3 separate regions of the Homo sapiens genome follow, and all the other regions are linked to region 1. Evidence: fine-mapped expression QTL. A gene starts in region 1. Each other region holds a variant in brackets. All regions are shown on one strand. Distances are between the middles of the regions.

Region 1 (8,182 bases):
TAGCAGGCATTTCTAGGCCCTCCATCTTTTCCCTGAATCCCAATGACAAAGCCTTGACTTCTGCAGTAAAATGCTAAGGATTCCCCAACTTCCAGAGGGCACGAAGTGATGACCTACTTAGAAATCAGATGCCCTCCTTCAGGGCCTGGGAGCTCCTCATTGGAAGGTACTTTGTGGATATAACCTGCTCTAGGCAGGTACAGGTAGATGCCTCTCTCTCAATCTGAAGCCACCCCAATGTCTGTGTGTTCCACAGCCAATCTGAGGTGCCAGGTACGTGTTGGGAGACTGATTCCTTTAAACGAAATATAAGAGGAAACTTTCTATAAGTGAGTTATATTAAATGGAGAGTGATGGCGTGGGGCACAAGCCTGGACTAGGATCTTCCCATGGGACCTACAGTATATTCCCAGGACTTCTTTTTTACACATTTTAAGTGCTGATAGTTTTTAAAAGTGTAACGTTAGGAAAAGGAACGTTTCCTGCCCAGGTACATGCCTGAGCCTGCCTATCCTAGCAGGATTCACCAGTGTGTTCGTCTTCCAAAAGTCCTACTTAATGGAAGCACTGTCAAATAACATAATTTTTAACTTCTCAGATATTTGGGCCACTTCACTAGAACTAAGGATGAGCAGATCATTCAAGCTCTCAATTCCAAAATTATACTAATTTCCATCCATAGTTCTAAAGGGTTGCTTTGTGGCTATTTTATAGCTAATGTTTTTGTGAAGGTGTAAAAATGATCCCATGTCACTTTTCTAGGCAAGAAGACACAATTTTAAATCATTTTTCTACTTTTATGAGTTTTTTCCTTTCCCCTTTATTTAAATGATGTCACGTCTACCTAAAACTATTCAGCCGATGCTGTCTAACATACACACACACACAAGGACAAACCACTGTTAGTGACAGTGAACCATCACGTTAACTGTTTACCATCACATTTGGGTTTAAACCATCACATTATCTTATTCTAATGACACATGAAACACTTTGTTCTTGATACAACAAAGAGAATGAAGAAGCTAAGTATTTTTCTCTTTATTTTTTGTTTTAGGAACAAATGTTCCTATACTCTGCTAATGAATTGCAAGTATTTTTATAGCTTCTATTACTCCATTCTCTATACACTTTAAATTTTAAAACAAAACAACAACAAAATTGCCAAAGTATTAGAAAACCATCCACTGGCTATTGACCTGATAACACAGAAGGGCCCAGCAGTTTGATGCCAGGAAAGCCAATGCCCTGGAATTGAATATCTTGGAGGCTTTGTCTCTGTAACACCCCAGAGATGGGTTTGCTGCTTGCTACATTTGGTATCCTGGATTTTCATGACTGGGAGCAGGTGGGATAGGGCACCAGCTTTGTGATTATGCTGGTTTGTTTACAGTTGTGTCCTGCCACTGTTAATAATGGCAAATGAAACAAACAATGTAAACACAGACTTCTTTTTGTTTTTCATAATCTGAGAAGGTGGTTAGTTCTTAGGTCAGGTCAGTTTCACCAATCTAAGGAGTTTTTTTCCTATTTTTTTTTTTTTTTGAGACGGAGTCTTGCTGTGTTGCCCAGGTGGGAGTGCAGTGGCACAACCTTGGCCCACTGCAACCTCTGCCTCCTGGGTTCAAGCAATTCTCCTGCCTCAGCCTCACAAGTAGCTGGGGTTACAGGCATGCACCGCCACACCCAGCTAATTTTTGTATTTTTGTATTTTTAGTAGAGATGGGGTTAGTATAATATGAGTGTGCACCACTACGCACACCACTATGCTTGGCTAATTTTGTATTTTTTGTAGAGTCAGGGTTTTGCCATGTTACCCAGGCTGGTAAGTTTCTATGCAAGCTTGAAGCAGAGCTGTTCACTTTAATTGTTCCTGTGTAAACTCTGATCAGACTCATGTGGGTGTTTTGCAGGGCCTAAGAGTAAAGCAGGACACCTCTGAATCTCTGGAGTGAGTCTGTGTGGGGATAGACATCTGTCTTAGGTTAGTTCTGACAGATCTGTGCCTTAGCTCTAAGAGAGAACATATGGAGGTAAGAAGAAACTATTCTGCTTTTCAAATAAATACCTTTTAAAAATCTTGCTACGTTTTACAAGTCCACTATTAGACTACTGATTAACTACTTCTCAAAAGAAGGAATGTGCCAGAGGTTTTGCCTCCACTTCAAAAAGTAAAGTGATAATTTGTCAGTTACCAGTTAACGTCATCCACTTAGGTATCTAAACTGGTAATTCTCATCTCAAAGTGAATTTTTTTGGCAGGAGGAAACCCAAGTTGACTCGTAAGAGTATATATACGGGAAACAATTTTCTTCCTTTTTTTATTCCTCTAAGTTTGATCCTGCAAAATTTCTGAATTAATCAGATCATTTCAAAGATCCTACTTTTCTTTAGATTAGAGGTAATTTTACAGCATGGTAAACAGCAATGTTTACCATGTATGGCTTAATCAGAGAGGCCCAGTCAGCACAGGGACTGTTTCTAGAAGGCCCCCTTACCTATACTTTAACTTCACCCCTGAGTTGTTCTCTTCGTCCAGTGGAGAGAGAGACAGAGGGAAGAGGAGAGCAAGATAGCGAGAGAGGAAACTGAGATTGGGAGAGAAGGAATTATAAGCCCGTATCATATTCTAAATAAAACAACACAAGTCATTTTACAATGCTGAAAACAATGCAGAAAGGTCTTGCCTCTAAAGCCCGCTATATTTTAACCAGCCTTCAGCCTTCTCCTTTTCCCCACTTATTTCCTTTGAAAGACCTACCCTAAGCAGAATGCATACACCAAAGTCATCTTTTATAACCAATTGATCACTTTAACCAGAATGCTAGAAACTACAGAACTTCATCTTCTTTTCTCCAATAAACATTTAATTTCTAAATGGCAAACCTTAAATCAAAGTCTCAGAGAAAAGGAGAAAGGTCAGTCTTCCTGTTTACTTACCTGGTTTGAGGTTTTGAAGGAATTGGAAACAACTTTGAATAAATCCCCCTCTCTCTTTCTTCTCCTGATGTTTTCTTCTAGAAATTTGCAGTGCTCACTTTTTTTTTATCCAGACCCAGCCAAGGTGTGTTAAAGCTGAGTGATCTTTCAAAAATGTTCACTTTTCTTTCTCTCCACCTTGTTTCTTTCAACTCTTTGCTTCCAAACATGTCCTGACAAAGGTGTGTCATGGTTTACAGCGTTACTCCACCCTTCCAATTATCTGACACTTGCTGGATTTAAAAAAAAAATCTGCCTCCAGGAATCAAACTTTACTGGAGGCAGAAAGCTTCTCCTTCCAGCTTAGGTAGATTAACTATTTATAAGGCCCATGGGGAAAAGGAAACAAAGGACCAGCATAAAGGAAATGCTTTTTTATTGCCTACCTTCTACAGCTGGAGAACTGCCACAACTTTGTGGCAGTACCCTTCCTCAGTGCCATGGGTACTGGAATCCCACTGCATGATTCATGAGTCTAGGCACGTGGATGGGCTCATGGATGAGCATGGTCTAGGCACATGGATGGCCTGTGGTCATACTGCCTGAGCCCTAGAAAAACTGAAGTTGGCAGGATTTATATTCAAGATCTGTTTCCCCTATAGATGTCTTCGTCCTCTGTTCCTGTGTCCTGTGTCCTTTGTCTTGTTTCCCCTATAGATGTCTTTGTCCTCTTTCCCCTCTTGTGACTCAAGCCAGGTCAAGCCCATCTGGAGAAAATAGTTGGTGAACTAATTCATAATATGCTAATGACTGAATGTACTGAGCAATTGGTGGGGTAGGGGTTCGTTTTACAAAAGAGGCAACCAGATATAGTGATGCTGACCTAAAAGAGTGACATGTTAGTGATGGAATTTTAGGCATTTAGCCACCTAATAATGGAGAGAGGTGCTGTTGGGAAGGGATAAGGACCTTCTTGTCCTTCAAATCAGGTGACCGCATAGTCTCCATACACCTAAAGACATGTGTGGGCTCCCAGATGTCCTGCAACTCCAAGTACATCCTGGGGACCTTTAGATTTCCCTAGAGGGTCAACTTGCATCAATCAGGATAATTCTTATGAATACCTGGATAGCATCTGGCTTCCCAGGGGGCCTAAAGACTAGCTTGAGACACTTGGTGTTGGTAAAATGGGAAGTCTGAACCTGGAACTCACTCAGGCAGTCCTTTGAGGCCATAGCACATTCCTGGGACCCAGCATCACACTGGGATTCCCAGTTCTGAGGCATTATCCTAAGATACTGGAGGGGAGCAGTGGGGCCCTTACAGCATAGCACCGATGTGCAACTGCACCTTGCTATTGTGGGCACTGCATCCCATGGAAGGGTAGCAGACCACAACAACAGCTGTGGGGCTCTTGCTCCTAAGCTGCCCATATTCCACACTGGAGTCGTGCATTTCAGAACCCTTTCAATTATGCAGAATTTGACACTTGCTTTGTAGGATGTTCTTGCCTTCCCCAAATAAATACTCAATATGTCTTCCGTCAGTTTCATAGTAGAAGAACACTGAAGAACCCAGAACACACAGAGCTTTCAGCATAAAATAGACATGCCCCTGCATCATTTATTTCTTTATTCATGAATTCAAGAATTAAACAAAAATATATTGGCTCCTGCTTGGAGCCAGACATTAAACTATGTGCTAAGAGTTTGGTGGTGAAATATGAACATAGTCCCTCTGCTTATGGAGTTCACAGTCTAATGGAGGAAGACAGGCCTTACATAATGTATTAGTCGGTGAGGGTTCCCATAACAAAATACGACGGACTGGGTGGCTTAAACAACACAAATTTATTTTTTCACAGTTCTGTGGGCCAGAAGTTCAAGATCAATGTGTCAGGAGGTTTGATTTCTCCTGAGACCCCCCTCTCCTTGGCTTGCAGATGGCCGCCTTCTTGCAGTATCCTCACATGGCCTTTCTCTGTGCATGCACATCCCTGATGTCTCTCTCTGTGTGTCCTCATCTCCTCTTCTTAAAGGACACAGTCAGATTGAATTAGAGTCCACCCTGATGGGCTCCTTTTTTACTTAAATTTAACTACTTCTTTAAAGACCCTATCTTCAAATAAATTCACTGAGGTACTAATGGCTAGGGCTTCACATATGAATTTTGGAGGGACATTATTCAGCCTATAACAGTTACGTACAATATATAATTGCAGATTATATATATATATATATTATAAGAGCAACTGCAAGAATATGATAACTATTATAAAGAAAGCATACTGACTTGAGGCCAGGAGTTCAAGACAAGCCTGGGCAGCATAGCAAGACCTTGTCTCTACTAAAAAAAAAAAAATAGCTGAGTATGATGGCATGTACCTGCAGTCCCAGTTACTCGGGTGGTTGAGAAAGGAGGATTGCATGAGCCTAGCAGTTCAAGGTTACAGTAAGCTATAATGGCGCCAGTGCACTCTAGCCTGGGTGACAGAGCAAGATCAGAAAGAAAGAGTACTGGCTACTGTGAGAGCGTAAGAAGAGACATAATCTTGGAGAGGGGTGTTAGGAAAAGTCCTGCTATATAAGTGATACATGAAGGTTGAAAAGAGATCACACAGGTGAAGGGCAGGGTGGAGAGTGTTCTACTATCTAGATGGGGCAAGAGTCTCTGAGAAGGCTCTCAGGTGGAAGCTGCACGGTGAGTTGGGGGAAGAGTGATGAGGCCAATTTGCTCAAAAGCATCAAGTGAAGGGAGGCAGGCAGCGGGCGAGAGGCTGGCAAGGGAGGCAGGACTAGATCACACAGGGCCTCACAGGCTGTGGAGGGTCATGTTTTGGGTTATGTGGCAAATGTTAAGTTGACATTAAGGAGCAACTCCCTACAGGCACTGTGTGGGTGTTCGGATTATTGATCCCAGGAAAGAAGAACGACTGCAACTAATGCTTTCTAGAACTACTGTAAGCCAGATTTTTTACATCCATTCTCTAACACAATCCCGACAACGACTCCGAGAGGTGTGTACCATTATTACCTTCATTTTATACCTGAGAAAAGTAAAGTTTGAGAGGCTGAGTAACAGGCCAAGGGTCTTCCATCTCATAAGTGGCAGAGTCTAATAGATTCCACTTGACTCTTGGACCTTCATTTCCCACTGCCTTGTGTATTATTAAAATTTAAGTCTGCCCATAGCTTTCAACTGAAAGAAAATAGGCAATATTAGAACAGATCAGGCTGAGGGCAAATTACAACTAAAAAAAACCCCAAACCATCTGAACAGTGGGGATGTTTTCAGTTAACAGCAGTATGGTATTGGAATAACTTATTGATAGTTTTAGATAGAAATCTATTTATAGAACTCAGCAACCACAGACCAATCAATTTTTCAACTATAACAACTATATAAAACCAAACACACAGGCCAGGTATTGTGGCTTATGCCTATAATCCCAGCACTCTGGGACGCCAAGGCAGGAGGATCTCTTGAGGCCAGGAGTCTAAGAGTAGCCTGGGCAACATAGTGAGACCCCCATCTCTACAAATAAAAATAAATTAAAAAATAAAATAAAGCTAACATGCTAAGCAACCATCAGAATCAGCATGGATGGTATTTTCCTACCCTTGGGTTCCTATAAAAATATTGGTATTCTCCAGGTACAATAGAACAGTCAGATCTATAACAGATAACCCCCAAAGTTAATTAGTCAAGGATGCTCTAAGCTAACTCAACAGCTAATAAGACTGCATGTCTGTGTGTGCATGTGCAGGTTCTCACATATTCAGATGTGCATGTGTGAGTAGTGTTTACAGAGTCCTATATTAGGTATTTTGGGGGAGAAGAAAAAAGAATTCAAGTACTCACATTCTAGTTATTCAATGTTCTTAGATTATTGTACTTGGCAAATCTGTGAGTAAGACATGGTACATACAGTGAAAGAAACTTCATTTAACATTTATGTATCAAGTTCCTACCATATGCCTGGTAGTAAGGGAGCTGTCTTTTAAATGTTTTTAAATTAGCCAGAAAACAACAAAATTCTTGCCAAAATGAAGAAGCAAAGAGTCAGCTTTAGGAAATAGAAGTGACTAAGACACTGGAAAGGTGTTTTTTGCTCTCTGACTGCATTTGGAGCTGTGTTAATGAGTCACATTAATCCATTTTTGATGGACTAGAAAGTCCCTTAAAAGGCAACCTGGAAAAATAGTTATACTTCCAAAATTATCTACTGACTTTTAAATAGGCTGGGGAGAAAGAGTGTCTTTTCACGTGTGGCCCAGATTGGCACCAAGTGACCAGACGCATCACTCTCTGAGCAGCGTGAGTACAGGCGGACTCTGCTTTATGTGACTGATGTGTTTCTGAAAAGGGATTTGTTTTTGGTGACCAGAGTGAGTGCTTTTGCCAAGTGACTGTTCACTACCTTATGAATCTTTGTAGATGCATATTTTCTTTATGTGTTTGGTTTAAAGGGGTGTACCCAATAGGTGGATTTCTACCTATTCTATGACTCTTTTCTCATAAAAACAGTATCACATGATAGTGCCATGATGTGCTTATGATACTTTCACGAGGTATCTTATAGCTTTGGGACACATTTTGCCCTCCATTCTCAAGAGACAATAAGAAATAAAGTTCTCTGAAAAGGAGGTGAGGGAAAATAATTTTAAATTTACTGAGGTAATTCCAGTATCTACAATTGTTGATTCAGCTCTTTTGTTGGACAGTAAATCCACTGATTTTTTTTTAAAAAAACCAATTCTCACATATTAAATAAAAATAATACAACAATTATTTGTTAGTTGCCTACTACTGTTCTAAGACTGGAAGACCATCTTCCGGCTTGGCTTCTTTGCTTAGCATGTGCTACTAGATAAGACTTCTCTATACACAATTATGACAACATCATATGTCATGGTGTGTGGAATTGTTTGGCTTTTGGAAGGACATAGCTAAGTAGTACGAACTCCTGCCCTTCCCATGTGGGCTTCTTGAATTATCGCCAGTTGTGTTCCTTGCTGCCTTGATTATAATAACAAAGCACCCTGGTTTCCTTTTCTTCCATTCCCAACTTCAGATCTATTCACTCATTTTTCCATTCAAAACTCATACATATTTGTTGAGTGAGTGGACTACCACCTATGGAGTGTCTATCATGAGCAAGGCATGAGGTGTAGAAATACAACTGAGGGTGAGATATAAAACCTGCCTTCCAGTAATTTACAACACAAAAAGAAAAAATATATGAACACAGTCACCACATATA
Region 2 (8,182 bases), 360 kb after region 1:
GGATAATCTCTTGAACCCGCGAGGTGGAGGTTGCAGTGAGCCGAGATGGTGCCATTGCACTCCAGGCTAGGTGAGAGAGTGAGACTCCATTTCAAAAAAAAAAAAAAAAAAGTTATGCTTACATTTTTATATTTATGTGTATCAGTATGTACATGCACATACAAGTAGTCTTTTCAGAGCCAATTAATTTGAATACATTTGCAAGTCTTATGAATTAAAAAAATGTTTGAAACTACTTGAACTATCAGAAAACCTCTACAAATATTGAAGAGATCAAGGCAAAGTTGTACCTCAAGTGATTTTCTGAGTTATACACAACATACATAATAAAAAAATATTGCTCGAAGTGATGGAACTCATAGGACCAGCTCAATAAAGTGAATTATGCAAGCTCTGCTAACTGGAAGATGTTATTGAATGGTTTAATTCAAGTAAAAGTTCTCAACACAAATATATCTGTACCTGTATTGATGTATGTTGGTAAAATACGATGGGCATAGTTTGCTGACCTGACCGTGTAATTGCAGTCAATGAAATTATTAAGCTTCCTCAATAGAATGAGGAGAGCACAACAGCAGGTGCGAGTTATATAGAGAGAGATTCACCATGGTTCTGGCCTTAAAGGCTCAAAATTCAGTTGGAGAGAAATAATGGGTTTATAAAGATAAAATATTGTTGGTAGTAACATGATATCTGTTGACATTTTGAGAAAGAGATTTTCTGTGTATTCTGTGAAGTAGCTTCTCTCAGAAGCAGTGGTTATTGAATAAAAAAAATCAACATTATCTTGAACCCATTGGGTAAGGCTGGAGTGAAGGCAAGATGGAATCTCTTTCCTTGGAGTTCTTGGCACTCAAGCATCTGAGTGGGTAGCTTTTGCCCTGGTAGGTGTAGATAAGCATGTGTCTTTGGTCTGGAGGAAAGCTGCCTGTTTCGCTTGAGTCAGCTTGTTCACAGAGTGAGGTGATTCTTCCCAACTCTCACCCAAGCAAATTGATGACTCCAGGGTGAGCAGAATCAATGCACTGGCATTTGCCAAATACAGATTCAGATGAAAATGGAATAAATTAGTTCCTCTCAGTCAGTTATTGCTTCGTGTATGCGAGCTGAGGAAGAAGGGGTGCTGAGGTGCATGTTGAATGTGAACTACCTTCTGTTTTCAGCTGAAGATATAAACAGACAGTGATTATAAAACTGTAGCTTGGTGGGGAAAGGAGTTCTGTGAGAAACTCAATTTCTCCCTCTGAATTGTACCTGGAGTAGCACTGACTCTTATTTGCATAGGCTGTTCAGAATATGTCTGGAATTTCCATTGTGAGGTTACAGACTGCCACCATGTAATAACAGCATTACTGGAAGCTAATACTGTAATTAATTTCTTACTACCATACTTAGCTGATATTGACAATGAGATGTGTGATTACCCAGCATAACTTGGCAGATTCTTCACAGCAAAAGAATTCATAATCACATCTGATGGCCTGTCCAACGGAGAGAACAGGATGTCTAGGAAGAGGCTATCATTTCAAGGATGGACATAGTATGGTTAGTGCTCTCAAGACATGCTTAGCCAAAGAGAAAGCTAGTATTTTGGTATTAGTAGTTGAGCTTGATTCCAGTACAGCTGTTCATAAAATAGTGAGGCATGCTACAAAGCGATATTGCTGTGCATCACCAGAAAACTCGGAATAAAAGAAATGCCAAACTGAAGATGCAATCTTTTGTTGGTGGGGAAATAATATCCTCTTTATGATATTCTTATGATGTTTCATTGACATATGGTGCTTCTAACCAAGTGACAAATTAATTGACTAAAGAGAAATGGATGTGGCTTAGTAAAGAAGGACAGGATATGTATTATAAGGCAGCTGGTTCTGCCACTGCTGGCTTATGGAGACAATATACATTGGACAGCTAATGAGTCTCTGTTGCATAAGATAGATTCTCTTTATAATAGAATTGCACGCTTTGTCTCTAAATGGGGTTATTATACACACCATTGCACAATGTTTGAAGAGCTTGGTTGGCCCTTGTAGAGGATTACGAGAGAAATAAATTGGAAGACAATGTACTGAAGACCTTCAATCCATCAAACATTTCATATTTATCTAAATTACTAGCACATTCTCCAAAAATATGAGTCTGTATGATACACAAGGCTAGAATGTTAATGCTGACCAGACTTTGCTTTATCAGACAGGTTTTCCACTGTAAGCATTGACCAAAATTCACGCACAGTGAAGCCGGGCAATACACATTCCAACAACTGCCCCCATTCCATTTGCCTCTGCTCTTCATGTATTCCACTATCTTAGTCCCTGAAGTTTCATTTGTTATTTCTTCTACCCACCATGAACACACAGGGCTCACTTGCCCTGGGTTATTTAATTCTCAGAACTTTTTGACTTTGACTACCCAGACAGCTTTAGTGGTAATTCAGTTTCTTCACTTTTCTCCATACTTGTGGGCCCTCACAGTTCAGTTGCTCAGCTATTCTTTATAATAAATCCATTTCAATTAAGGTTAAAGCCTAGAAAGAAATACTAGGCTGGATGTGGTGGCTCAGGCCTGTAATCACAGCACTTTGGGAGGCTGAGGTGAGTGGATAAAATGAGCCCAGGAGTTGGAGACCAGCCTGGGCAACATAGCGAGACCCCGCCTCTACAGAAAGTACAAAAATTAGCCAAGCATGGTGGTGCATGCCTATAGTCCCAGCTACTTGGGAGGCTGAGGTGAGAAGATTGCTTGAGTCCAGGAGGTTGAGGCTGCAGTGAGATATGATTGTGCCACTGTACTCCAGCCTGCGTGACAGAGTGAGACCCGGTCTCAAAAAAAAAAAAAACAACAACAACAACAAAAAACAAACCAAAAGAACAAAAAGGAAAGAAACAAAATATTGGAAGTGACGAAGAAGACAGGATAAATGACAACATCATTCACTCTGTGTCAGAACACTGTACTTTCTATTAGAGGACATGGCAGGGCTTATTCAGATGGTGTAGATGGGGAGATGGAGGAGGTGAGTCATGCTCTTACCATCATTACTCTCTAATGTGGCTTTGAACCTGATTCCACTTTCTGGCTTGATTCTTCTATCCATGATATCATGTAGATGGAATTTTGTAGCTCAATTTTGCCCAAATATTTTCAGGGTGATACCATGTCTTTGAGCCCCAGGGGAAGTTTTGCACAGGAAAGGTGATTCTTGGGGTATATCATCACTAGGTTTTTGACTTGCCAATGGACTGTGGAGGCACCATTAATTCCTGCTGATGCTGAGATCCTCACCTATGTGGTGAGGTGACAATATTTTGTTTCTTTCAAACTTTCTTCTCTGTGTCTTTCTCCTCTCAACCTACCAAGAGTAATTGAAGAGAATTACACCTGTGAAACATTTCAAGATGCTTGGAGTAAGATGGTCTTTTCAGTTTAAGACATTATTATATTCCAAACCAGATTGCTTTCTCTCTGTCATTGTGAGGTTCTTTCCTTTGCAAGTCTATCTGTACTCTGGTATAGAGAAAGGTGAGCTGAAAGAAATGGACAAAACTGTTTCATGGACTTCTCCACATATTTATTACCCTCTCCAAATTGAATCTTGAAGCCTTGTCAGAAGTGTTATTTTCCCAACAGAGTAGGTGTTAAGTGTCTCTAGAA[A/G]ATAAACTCACCTCCTGATATCTTTCTCAAGATTATATTGTAAGGTGTGACAGGAGGTGTTGTACAGCAAGGGAAGATCATCACTTTGTAATTTGATTTGTTCAAGTTCTCTTCTTTGGCACGGGCTTTTGGATTTCCTTGTCATTTCTGGAATTATTTCTTAAATGGTGAGTATTTTTTTCATATGTGTTTTTCCCAGAGCTTATTCCATCCAAATACTTTTTAAGTTGCATACACTCTTCTATAAATAGAGCTATGTTTTTGTAATGGAGTTTCAATAATTTGGCCAGGGAAAAGGAAAAACTGAAACAAATGGTAACAATGACTAGTTAATGATTTTTCTTTCACCTGATTTTTTATGACTTTTATATTTTCTGCTAAAAGCAGATTATTTGATAACAATACTAAGAATACTTAGCTGTAGGTAAAAATTAATATCCATTTGACTGAATGTTTCATTTAATGACAGGGCTTGTGCTTACCACAATTATCTTAAGGAAATAAATGTGTACAGAGACTGATGAGTAGACACACTAGACTTTATCAATGTTTATTCAAATTATTGCAGTTTAGTGATTTGGAAATCTAGAATTGAGATGCTTTAGAAATAAATCTTTGCTTATATGTAATTTCTTTAGTTCAAGGGTCGGAAAACACTTTACAAGCAATTAAACTCTAGGATTCAAATGAGGATTTCATATTGTTTATTGTTTAAATAAAGTTACAGAATTATCATTTGCTTAGGGTTTCTAGAAAATCCTTTCTTTTAGGTCTACAAATATGCATACCCAAGTTTCCTTGGATATTTACCTCTTCCCTCAAGACATTTTCAGATTTCTTTTCTTCCCATGCCATCATATTTCTTTTCTTTTTTTTTTCAGATGGGGCCTGGAGTGCAGTGGTGCACAGCTCATTGCTCCCTCGATCTCCTGGGCTCAAATGATCTTCTCACCTCAGCCTCCTAAGTAGCTGGGACTACAGGCATGCACCAAAATGTCTGGCTAATTTTTGTATTTTTCTTTTTTTCCTCTCTCTTTTTTTTTTTAAATAGAACCGGGGTCTCACTATGTTGCCCATGTTCATCTTGAACTCCTGGCCTCAAGCGACCCTCCTGCCTCAGCCTCCCAATGTGCTGGAATCACAGGCACGAGCTACTGCACCAGGCTATTATATTTCTTGAAAAACTCTCTTTTTTACTTCCTCCTGCAACCAACTCCTCCAACCAGAGTCAGTCACTCCCTCCTTTTCTTGGCAAGATCTTGTATCCTGCCCTTGTCTCCCAGTCCTTGTGATCTTATGTTCAGGTAGAGAGGAACTTTCTCTTACTCATTGTCTTATTACTTGTATCCAAATGTTGGGGACATTCCCAGCCCTTCATAAGGATTGTTTCAATGCATGACTGAATGAATCTGTGAGTGAATGTGATCACTGTGGAGCTGTGAAGTAGCTTGGGCCACTCCCAAATTGTGCTGGCCATGCAGTGAAAGGCATTTTCCCTGTTTTGACGGGGCTGTTTATCTCTGCTCCTGGTTCTGCTCTCCACTAGGAAAAGGAGAAACTCTACATGGAACTAAAGCACGTCTTGGCCCGCCAGCCTGGACCTGAGGCTGCGGAACAGCTGAAGCTGTACCGACGCACGCTGCATGACAAGAAGCAGCAGCTGAAAGTAAGTGGTAGCCCCTGTTCCTTCCGGGTTCCAGGGCAGCCACACTCTGGGGAGCACACCTGGACAAGTCCACTGACTCCACACAATGAGCCAGTCTCTCAATGCCACGATCCTCTGAGGTCAGCTCCCTTAGAGCTCTAGTCTAGGATGAGCCAGCAGACCTCAGAGCTATCCTTCTCTTCCTGGACTATTAGACAGCACCATTCTCCATTTCCAGAAAGAGGCAGGTGAGCAAGGGAGGAAAAGATGATGACAACAGAATGGAGATGTGCGGACAGGGTTTGGATGAATGATCTTGAGATGATTTATTAGAGTACTTGAAGGGCAGGGAGGAGCAAAGGAAATATTTTAACACCATTGACCAACTGAAGCAGACTGCCGTGCCACAGTGGGTCCCTGGTATTCCATCCCATCTGAAATAAACATACACAGAAGAAGTCCAGCCACTGCCCAGCCCTGAGGGCCTTGCTTCCTGACCAGCTGTCAAATATGTAACCATGAAAGGGAAATAAAATCAGGCAAGATTTTTTGATAGTGTGATTCCCTTCTAAGTCACATAAGACCCTCAGTTGCAGAGATATGGAGTGTTTTACTTTTCTATGTGCCTTTTGAAAGTTTTCTCAAAAGTTGTGCATGTTCACACTATATTTTGAGCTTCACCTTCTAAGCAAGTACTTAGCTATTCTTGGCATATCAGGGAAGTTTTACACACACAGCCACAGGATGAAGCATGTGCCAGTTGAATTCTGGCACTTCCTGCCCAATGAGGGTAATAATCGTTGACTTTCTGCCTGGGGTAAAATATATGCCACCCTACTAGTATAGCCCTAACCCCTTCAAAAATAGGACATTGTAAAACTGCATCCTTTTATTTTAAAAGGGCAAATGAAACAAGTCTAATTAGAGCATTAATTTTCAATTTGTCACTCTGAATGTTCATTTCACTTGAGTATCTTGAGACATAATTTGAATTTTGCATAGGACGTAATCTTTTGATTATTTTGTTCCTTTAAACAATTGAATATTTTGAACAAAACAAATTATTTTCTTGTTTTCTCAGAGGTAGATATAGATTAGAAAAGCACAGAGCTGTCTTATTCACACAGAGCTCCGGGTTGCCTTCAAAGGCTCACAGGAGCCTTTTGTGAATTTAACCCTTTATCTCAGGAAATCCAGATTTTTTGCTCAAATGAAATGTGACCCCTCATGAAGAGGTTTAGAGGTGGGTGGTACTGAGCATGTCTGCCAGTTTGTCCTTGATACTTACCTACTCTTATAGGAAATTCCACATTCATTGTTTAGAAGGAGGGTCTTTGTTTCTAAAAGTTTAACTACTGAGACAGGTTTTTTTTTTTTTTTTCCAGCATGAAAATTACGTTCTTTAGCCCATGATAACCTAATCAAAATCATTTTCACAGCAGTGAAGAAGAAAGAGTTCAGAAGCAGATGAACACTAAGAAGGCTAAGATCTCCCTTTTATGCAAATATTTAAAACAACAAGCAAGAGGAAAAATAAATCCAGCCTATTGCATGCCTGTTAGAACAATACCCTTCCTTTTCTCTTTTTGGTTTTGGTGGGGAGCACACCCCAGCTTTGGCATGCGCTATGTCCTATGCAGATGAGTGAATTCCCACTCTTCTTGTCCAGCCCAAGCCCAGCAGCAGCTACCGAACACAGCAATGGAAGGAAGCAGATAGTCAGGCTTTGAAGAGTCCCGAAGAACACAGTAAAGAGGGGATAGGCATTCAGCAGCATCACAACCCTGGAAAACACATAAATTGAATGCTTAGTTAGCAGTGATGGCAGGATGACTTCAGAATAATTTTTTTCATAATCCTCAGATGAATCACACACTCTGGTGATGTTTTTCTTGAATATTTTCTTTTTTTTTAAGGCTTTAAAAGCAATTTTAGACTGTGTGTCTGGGAGTTTTCTGTCTCTATTCATGATATTCCTTGAAGCACATTAGACCATTCATCTGTGAGCCTGTTCGAATGTTGTCTAATAGTTCTTGTTTTAAGTGGGGGAATGATATTTTGTTTAAAGTTGCAACCTAGTGATGCATCTTCAGCCCTCAGCCAGGTTTCTACTCAGATGTGGACCCTGAGCTGGTGGAAGCATGCAGATTAATTGTGAAACTTGGGCATTGTTTTGCACCTCTAGCTCCACTGCGGTAAATGGTAGCAGATTAAAAGATTTCTCAGAAAAGGATATTGTATCTTTTGTTAATGCTGCTTTATTTGCCATGTTAGGTTTTGTCTTCAGAATTGAATATGTATGAAGTACAGAGCAAAGAATATAAATATGAGGTAGAGAAACTTACCAATGAGCTCCAGAATTTAAAGAAGAAATACCTCGCTCAGAAACGTAAAGAACAACTTCAAAAGTAAGAATTAGTCAAACGTCCTAATTTTGTTGTGCCTATTATCTGCACATAAGAAAATATTTGGTGAACAGTCACAGAGTTGCAAGTTTCACTGGGGTAAACTAAATCACAGGGTAAACAAATGACATTCTACAGGTCACTAAGTTTGTATCAGAGCAAGATCAGTGTCTCATCTGATACTGAGTCCCCTCCTTGGGATTCTAACAGGGATCCATTAATATCTGCTCATTGGTGGATCTACCATGGAGCAGAGGAAATGTAATATGACTTTTCTCCCCACACTAGTCTATGGTTTGGAGATAATAATGTCATAACTATGTTTGCAAATGAGTTTCAAAATCAGCCTTGTACAGCATATTCACATTTAAAACCACATGTGCTTTTGCTAAGGGACCAGGGCTTAGTAAAGCTGTTCTTTCTAATGATGCCCCTGTACCACTATAACTACTAGCAGTTCACCTATGTTTTATTT
Region 3 (8,182 bases), 53 kb before region 1:
GGCACGTGTCCAGCTGGAGGGAGGCATGGAGTGTCATTTTCTAATCTGGGAGCGTTGTGCACTATTGAGCTCATTCTTGACTTAAAAAAAAAAAATGAAACAAAAGAGGCTAACATCCATTGCCATCCAGCTGAGGACATAACCTCATATCTGCCCATCCTCTTTCTGAGTTTTGTCCAGAGAAGGTAGTAAGTTTGGACTTGTACCCTATTTTACTTGAGCTAAAACTTGATGAAGACTTTGGGTATCTTAGGTAGATCTAGTAACAAGGAAAAAACTCCTATGTCTTGATTAATCAAGATAAGGATCACTATTAAAGGGGATATAATACTTGAACCCCTAAAGCTACTTTTTTTTAAAGGGTCAAAACATCTTTTTCCCCCCTTTTTTTGGAAGTTACTTTTAATAAGTGTAAAAGCTACAATTAAAAAGTAAAAAATTCAGCCTTTGGGTAAAACTAATGAATTCTTTTGAAAAAAAATTATTTAAAAAGCACAATTCCTTTATTATACACAATAGTTTTGCTTAGTAAAACTCAAGTTGTTTGAAATCTGGAGGCTGTATGAACTAATTTTTATTTTATTTTTGTTTTATTTTTTGAGATGGAGTCTTGCCGGCTGGAGTGCAGTGGCACGTTCTCAGCTCACTGCAACCTTCACCTCCTGGGTTCAAGTGATTCTTCAGCCTCAGCCTCCCGAGTAGCTGGGATCACAGGTGCCCGCCACCATGCCGGCTAATTTTTTTGTATTTTTAGTAGAGATGGGGTTTTGCCATGTTGCTCAGGCTGGTCTCGAACTCCTGGGCTTAAGCAATCTGCCCGCCTCGGCCTCCCGAAATTCTGGGATTACAGGCATGAGCCACCGCGCCCAGCCTTATTTTTAAAAAATTCTCATTAATTCATAGCAGGCAATTATCAGGATATAATAAAAGAGGCAAAAAGACCACGTAGAGTGTGTAGTGCTTGACTGGTTGTTGCCGTTAGCGGTTGTTTGATATAGAGGAAACAAGTGGAGTGTTTTTTCTGGGATAATATGAGATACTCAGCAGAGACCTTATGGAAAATAAAGTCTTTTTAGAAGAGTAGTGGTGTAGAAATAGATGCAATTTAATCCCATTTTTAATTATCCAGCAATTTGAGAGTCACAACTTGTAACAAATTCACAAAGTGGCTAAGTAGAGTCTCTTCTCAATTGGAGTGTCTGATTTTACTGTGCATTTCTTTGGGGCATTTGAGATTTGTACATTTTTCTTTAATAGAAGTTTCTATATTCCATATATTACTTGCCCTACAATCATAATTCCATTGCCCCAGGATAAAGCACTACCTAATTGCAAGTAATCTTCTTGCTCATTTGTTGCATGTTTATTTCAAATAACTTATGCTTGGGGAAAACTTTCATGTGCTTTGTAAAATCCCCAGATTGAGTTCATAGTTGCAGGTATCTAAAGATTTGCCTTTGAAGACCTCAGGGATTGAATGAAATACCAGAAGCTATGCCCCAAAATACAACCACTTTTGTTTTCTTGTGTTTGTAATAAACAGTGTTAGAATCAGACCCAATTAACCCAGACTATTTTTTAATCTTTCTTTGGTCAGACGAATCACATTAAACATGATATTAGAAAAAAAAACTTCTTTAATGGGAAATTTTACGATTGAAATGATGTTTCATCTTATAGACCACAAACAAATGTTTTTAGACATTGAAAAGTGGTTAAAGACCAACTGCGCCCAGTCCCCCAAGTGCCATTTTCTGAGTGCAGAATGGAGGGTGACGTCTTGAGCTGATGCTGTGTCCCCAGCATCAGGTTTTCTGTTTTCCCTCTTCTCCCTTTATTCCTTCCTTGTCCATTGCCCTCAACCTTCTTTTTCTGTTTGCTCTGGCCTGGTTCAGTATAACATATCCATGAACTCTAGTATGGGCCTACGGACAATCATAGCTACAATCAGACTTTCTAAGCAAATGGGAATGTGATATACATATAACCATTAGAAACCCTATCATCACCTCCTAGAGGGGAAGTGAATTTCTTAATTTTTTTAGTTGCAAGAGTCACTTCTTAGCCAACTGACTAGAGAATGCAGAATGAACAGGGGAGGAAGGAGCTGATGGCACAGCCTTAGAACAGTAACCAGAACACACCCCCATCAAGTGTCACCTCCAGGAAGGCGCCCCACCCCCATCCTCCGTTTTCTGGGCTCATATTTAGGTAAAGCTCTAAGACTCCTGAGCCAACTTTTATGTAACTGGCTTTCCTAGGCTGGGGCTTGAACTAAGTAAAGAAGCCAAGGAGTTCAGATCTAGATAGCAGAGAAGTAAGTCTCATTCTAAAACATTGCAACTACTGTTAGAGTCCACCCCATGAAGCTGTTTCAGATTGTGTATCTTTGACTGAATTCTATAAGTATATATTGTTCAGACTAAAACAAATGTTGCTAGCTAGGTTGGCTGTGCTGTCTCAGTAGGACATTGACAGACTCCAGCTTTCACCCTCTGGAGACCTTGGACCTAAGTGCCACATGCATTATGAGACCTGGTCCAGGAGCTGTCCTGCCATGGCTAGCTCACGGCTTGACAGCAATACTTCTTCTCCTTCTCCGCCCAGCATAGACTTGGTCACCTGAAAGTTAGAAGATCAGTAGGAAGTTAAAACATATCTTGTGGCCTGTGGGGATCTTGGCTTGGGCAATTATGGCAACCGTGACTACTGCAAAGATGGCTTCAAAGGTGAAATCTTTTGTAAGACTACATTTATTTAACTTGTTTGCCCCATTTCAACACCAGCTTGGTTCTCCTTTTCCTCCCTGCTTTGACACTCTCCTTTTCTTCCTCACTGTGAATGGGATTGTTATGCAAATTCTGCTTTTGGCAGTGTCTGCCTGGAGTAATTGGCATTTGCCTGAATTTCTCAGGCTTGCTCTGGAACAAATCACCTGCTTCTCTAATGAGCGTCAGCCTTGCAGCCCTCCAGAACATGCAAAACGTGGAGCAGTCAACACTTACCTTTGTCTCCTTTTTCTCCCTTGTGTCCTCGAGGGCCAGGTGGCCCAGGATGACCTGGTGGCCCAGCAGGGCCCCTGTCACCTGGAAGGAAAAATGGGGCGTAACTAAGTAATACATGAGTCTGGGGACTGAGGGCACAGGTAGCCGGTGTGGCACCAGCACAGGAGCTGCTTTTCAGTACGAGGTGGGTGTTAACACAGGATCCAGGGACTGGCTCTCTGCCACCACTTACCTTTGGGTCCTGGAGTGCCCATCTCTCCTTTTTGCCCAGGGGGTCCTTGAATGGCTCCATAAGCTGCAAAAGCAAGGAAACACTGGCCTTAGAGTCTTGATCACCTGGAAGCTTGGGACATCAAGTCATTTGTTCAGAGTAACACAGAGAGATAGTGATGGAGTTTGGACGTGTAAGAGGAAACAAAGTTCAGAATTTATAGAATTTGTCTAATTTTGAGCATCTCAAATGTTAATAACTGGAGATTTCTCATGAGACTGGTGTCTCTGGAGCAGACCCGTGGGAACCTATGCAGTGAGGCAGGTGCTGGGAAAGCAGTTGGATGCCCTTACTTTGGAAGAAGTCCATGAGGTCCGCAGTCACGTTGCTGTAGGCAGAGAAGACCTTGCTGATGCCGGGTGGCCCCTGTGGCCCAGGCTGGCCTGGTGGGCCCTGGACAGTGTAGGCCATCCCTTGCAGTAGGCCCTGACCTGTAAAACACCAGAGCTTGGGCACAGGAAGCAGGGATCTCCCAGTACCCTCTTCAGCAGGAGCACAGTGCCCTCCGAGTGTCAAACTCCCAAAGCAGTTGAACTAGATCAAGCCGCAGCAAGGGTGAAGCCCTCCAACTTCCTTTGTATTCCACTGTGTGACTGGCACAGGTCTCTTCCTGCTGTGGGCCGGCATCAAAAGCTTGTTGACTGCGTAACTGTGCCGTTAAGCTGC[G/A]CGGGGAAAGGACTCTTAGCCAACATCCTTCTCTCGGCCCCAGCAGAAAATCCAGCATGGTCATATGACTCATCTGGGACCCAGAACGAGCTAGGTGTTGGGAAAACAAAGTACAAAGCCCCCAGCGTGCTCTGTTCCCCACAGCTCGGGTCCCAGGACTGGGGCTCCTTAAGCTGAGTAGGCTGAGAGCTAGGCTGGGGCTGCCTGTCCCCTCCAGCCCCTGCCTGCTTGATTCTGTCTTCACAGCCTGGGGGTTCCACAAACAAGAAAGCCAGTCTGGAGATGCTCCCACGCTCCTTCCCCCCAGCACCAAGGCCTAAATGTCCCCACTTACGCTGCATGCTCTCTGACACCCTCACAGCCAGCTCATTGTAATCCAGATCTCCAGCAAAGTCAGCTCCCAATAGTCCGCCATTGCCAGCATACATGCCGCCTTCTGCTGCTGCCCCATAGCCTCCGCCTGGGCCGATGTCAGTGCCATAGGGACCCCTGTCTCCTGCAGCTTCACCAAAGGCACCGCCTGCACCCAGGGAGCCTGCACCACCTCCTCCTGTGCTCATGGAAGAGCTGTAGGAGCTGCCCCGCCTGACAGATGAGCTGTGTGAGGAGGAGCTGCTACCCCGACTGTGGGAGGCATCCGTGGACAGGAGGCGGCTGTCCCCAGGGGGTCCCTGCGGCCCAGGAGGGCCTGGGGGGCCAACAATGAAGCTGCGCACATCAGGACCTGCAGGGTGAGAAGCTGCATGAGTGGGAGCTCAGATCTCGGTGGAGAGAAAGACTTGGGAGTTAGGGAGTCTCTCCCAGGGTGTCAATGCCCCTGAGAGACCAGAAGTGAACTTCAGGGTTCTTGTACCCGAGTGGGAGAATTTTGGTGTGGAAGGAAACCGGGCTTACCCCACCAGTGGCTCTCGTGTGGCCTTCCTGTCCCTTTAAGTGCCTCCCTGCCCCACTTACAGGGAAAAGCAAGGCCTGCGGGGTGCCTGGTGGGGCATCACCGTCGGGGCACCTACTTGTGAGGTAGCTGATCAGCTCGCTCCGGAAGCTGTCGCTGTTTTCAGCTGCATAGGTTGCCAGGGCTCCTGAGACACCCGGGGGCCCTCGAGGCCCTGGGGGACCAGGAGGTCCTGGAGGGCCTGGGATGAATGACAAGCCGGCAGCTGGGCAGAAGGAAGAGAAAGAAAGGTCGGGGTAGTGCTGCGGAGGAAGCTGAATTCCCAGCCTGTGCTCGGGGCGCTGTGGGCCCCACCTGAAAGGAGGGGATGAGGCTGGGCCTCCCGGGTGATGGGAGGAGAGAAAAGCAGGAGGCCAGAGCCTGCTGTTTCCTGACATCATCCAGGAATGGCTGTTCCCGTCAGGCTCTCCCACTCCCAATTCTGAGCCTCATTCAACTCAGCCCTCCAGTCACTGAGAGGTGGAGCCCCAGGTCGGCCCTAATCACACACCGGGCTGCGCCTGGGAAAGCCATCTCTCCCCACCTCTGTCCCTGCCACGGCTGAAGGCCCCTTGCCAGCACATGTGGCGCTCTCCAGGGCCCTGCACCCAGCACTGTACAGGCTCCAGGAGCACTTAGACTGCCCTTGCTAAAGCCCATGGGAGCCCCCAAGGCCCGGCTGCATCCCCTGCCCTCCCCATCCCACTCCACAGTGCCCTACTATGTAAGTAAGACGAGAGGTCCTCCACGCTGATGCTGGACCACACATTGCCTGGGATCCCTGGTGGACCCGGGGGACCTGGGGGTCCAACGATGCCTCTGAATTCAGACCCTGAGACACCAAGGGAGGGCACGGAGTCAGTCCTGGCCTGGGCCAAGGGACTCTGCTTCCTCCCCAACCAGTTGGACAGATGTCCCCTGCTGGGCCTTACCTCGCAGCAAGGAGAGGAGCTCCTCATAGGAGGTTCCCGGCAAGCCAGGGGGCCCCGGGGGACCAGGAAGCCCAATGCTGATCCCAGAACCTAGGGAGGTGATGGATTCAGATCAGGCAGGGGGAGGCAGATGGAAACACCTGTCAGAGAGGAGGTCGGATACAGAAGAGGTTTGGACAGAAGTGGGGTCCAAGAAAGAAAAGAGATGGTGGCAGGAAGAGAGGCAGAGAGGAGGAGCCCAAAGGAGGAACGGAGGGGCCCACGGGGCCGGAGAAGCAGGTCCAGTGTGCCTGTGTGCTTCATTCTGTGTGTGTGTGTGTATGAGTATGTGTGTATGGGAGTGAGTGTGTGTGTGTATGGGAGTGTATCGGAGTGTGCGTATGGGAGTGTATGGGAGTGTGCGTGAGTACTGGAGTGTATGGGAGCGTGTGTATGGGAGTGTGTATGAGTGTGTGTGTATGGGAGTGTATGGGAGTGTGAGTACAGGAGTATGGGAGTGTGTTTATGGGAATGCGTGTGTGTATGCATATGTGAGTGTGTATGGGTGTGTCTGAGTATGGAAGTGTGTGTATAGGAGTGTGTGTATGGGAGTATGTGTATGGGAGTGTGTATGGGAGTGTGTGTGTATGGGAGTGTGTGTGTATGGGAGTGTGTGTATATGTGTGTGTATGGGTGTATGGGAGTGTGAGTATGGGTGTGTGTGTATGGAAGTGAGTGTGTGTGTGTATGGGAGTGTGAGTATGGGTGTGTGTGTATGGGAGTGTGTGTGAGAGAGAGAGAGTTGTATGTAGACTCCACACGAGACAGTGCCTGAGACCCCCGTTTTGGCTTTCCTTGCCATGCTTCTTGACCTGCTCCAGGCTCACAGGTTTGAACGGCTCTGAGCACTGCTCATTGCTGGGGTTGGTGCAGTCTGGCAGGTGGGGGTCAGTGGGGCAATCACAGGGAAGTTCACGCTGCGAGTCCTCATCCCAGTCATCCCAGGCCCTTCCCAACCACCCCTCCTGCAGACACTTACTCGACATGTAGCTGAGAATGCGACTACTCAGCTCTGCATAGTCCAAAGACAGGAGGGACCCATCTCCACTGGCTCCTGGTGGCCCTGGCGGACCCCGAGGGCCCATCAAGTACTGACGTAGGTACTGACGCACGTCATCCCCTGGAGAGGAGAGGATGCACTAGCAGGACCCACCCAGGCCATGGGGGTCGCAGCCATGATCCAGCCACAGCCTGGGCTCCCCTGCACAAACTGGCTCCTGCGTGACATTTGTGAGTTCTGGGTCCGCAGGACCACGGTGTTCAGGGGGGACACCAGCAAGCTGCCAGGTTCCCAAAGGGACACCTGCCAGCTTGTCTGGCATGGGGGCTTGGGAGGACATTTCCTGCCCCCTTTCCAGCCGGTTTGCTGACTCAGCAAGCAGATCAGAGCAGTAAGTGGCTCTTTGTCCAAAGGACTCTGCCTCCCTCTTGCAGCCCTTCCAAGGCTCAGACGAGGACAAGGTTTGCATGACGAGTGAGGCCAGGAGAAAGCAAAGATAGTCCCACCCTCGATCCCCCCACAGGTGACTCACGCTGCAGCACAGCCAGAATGTCTTCAGAAGAGATGGAGGACGAGAACAAGCTGACACCGTACCCCGAAGCTGTCGGGAAGAAAACCTCAGGTTACCTGCTTAGCAGGTACTGAAGCAACACCCTCACTATTCCAGAATCTGAAAGGCCCGGTCACCGAGCTGTTTGTCTTTGGGGGAAGTGGATGAATGGAGTATTACGAGGCTATTTTGAAAGCATAACAAAGTCAAATACTGTTGTTGGGATTTTTTTTTTTTTTGTAAGAAAGGAAGTTTATTTTTGAGAACATGCTTTAGCCTAATGCCTGCCAGATGCTGCCAACCTTCATGCACAGGTGGGAAGAACCTATAATTAGGAACACATTAGTCAATTGCCGGAAGGCTCACTCGGTGTCTCTCCAGCGTGGCCGCCCTGAATCTGGACAGACCCTTGTTGACACTGTATCCCAGTGGCCCGATTATTATGAATTCGGAATTAAAACTCATGTTCCAGAGAAGGGCAAAGCAAACAGCAAACGAGGAGATGAGGCTCTGGGAGCAAAAGCAGACCCACAGGAGGAAGGTGCCAGGTGCAGGGCGTGGGGAAGGGCTTACTCCGTAAGTAGCTCACAACGTGGCTTGCCAGCTCTGAGTAGTCGAAAGTCTCGCCTGTGATGGTGGTGACAGGTCCTGGGGGACCAGGTGGGCCTGGGGGACCCTGAACTCCGGATAGGTAAGATCTAATACTGTCACCTGCCGACCAAGGAACAAAGCAAAGTCAAGCCTGTCCCAAGAGGACATGTTCTCCCCACGGAGGTGACCTGAAGCAC

Direction of the effects. Alleles are on the strand shown, and positions count from the first base shown. SD is a standard deviation of normalised expression in the study named.
For the expression in spleen of the gene that starts at base 3,098 in region 1, A is the high allele of the variant in region 2 and G is the other (large effect, 1.1 SD a copy in GTEx).
For the expression in whole blood of the gene that starts at base 3,098 in region 1, allele G in region 3 goes with a higher level than allele A (small effect, 0.33 SD a copy in GTEx).

What was found.
Region 2: its variant is fine-mapped to the expression of COL17A1 in spleen (GTEx, PIP above 0.99).
Region 3: its variant is fine-mapped to the expression of COL17A1 in whole blood (TOPMed, PIP above 0.99).

What each region holds. Positions count from the first base shown.
Region 1 is chr10:104,082,783-104,090,964 of GRCh38, forward strand. It overlaps COL17A1 (collagen type XVII alpha 1 chain), which reads right to left and starts at 3,098. Exons shown (of 56, transcript NM_000494.4): 1 at 2,941-3,098.
Region 2 is chr10:104,442,495-104,450,676 of GRCh38, forward strand. It overlaps CFAP58 (cilia and flagella associated protein 58), which reads left to right. Exons shown (of 18, transcript NM_001008723.2): 16 at 5,204-5,323; 17 at 7,577-7,710. Among named protein-coding and RNA genes, the nearest start is that of LINC02620, 34 kb to the right of the region's middle. RefSeq lists an enhancer at 2,410-3,609. The variant A/G (reference allele first, on the strand shown) is at 3,658.
Region 3 is chr10:104,029,669-104,037,850 of GRCh38, forward strand. It overlaps COL17A1 (collagen type XVII alpha 1 chain), which reads right to left. Exons shown (of 56, transcript NM_000494.4): 46 at 7,968-8,105; 47 at 7,377-7,445; 48 at 6,824-6,964; 49 at 5,806-5,895; 50 at 5,595-5,705; 51 at 4,953-5,099; 52 at 4,277-4,666; 53 at 3,570-3,707; 54 at 3,238-3,300; 55 at 3,006-3,086; 56 at 1,618-2,622. The coding sequence ends at 2,567. Among named protein-coding and RNA genes, the nearest start is that of MIR936, 14 kb to the right of the region's middle. The variant G/A (reference allele first, on the strand shown) is at 3,943.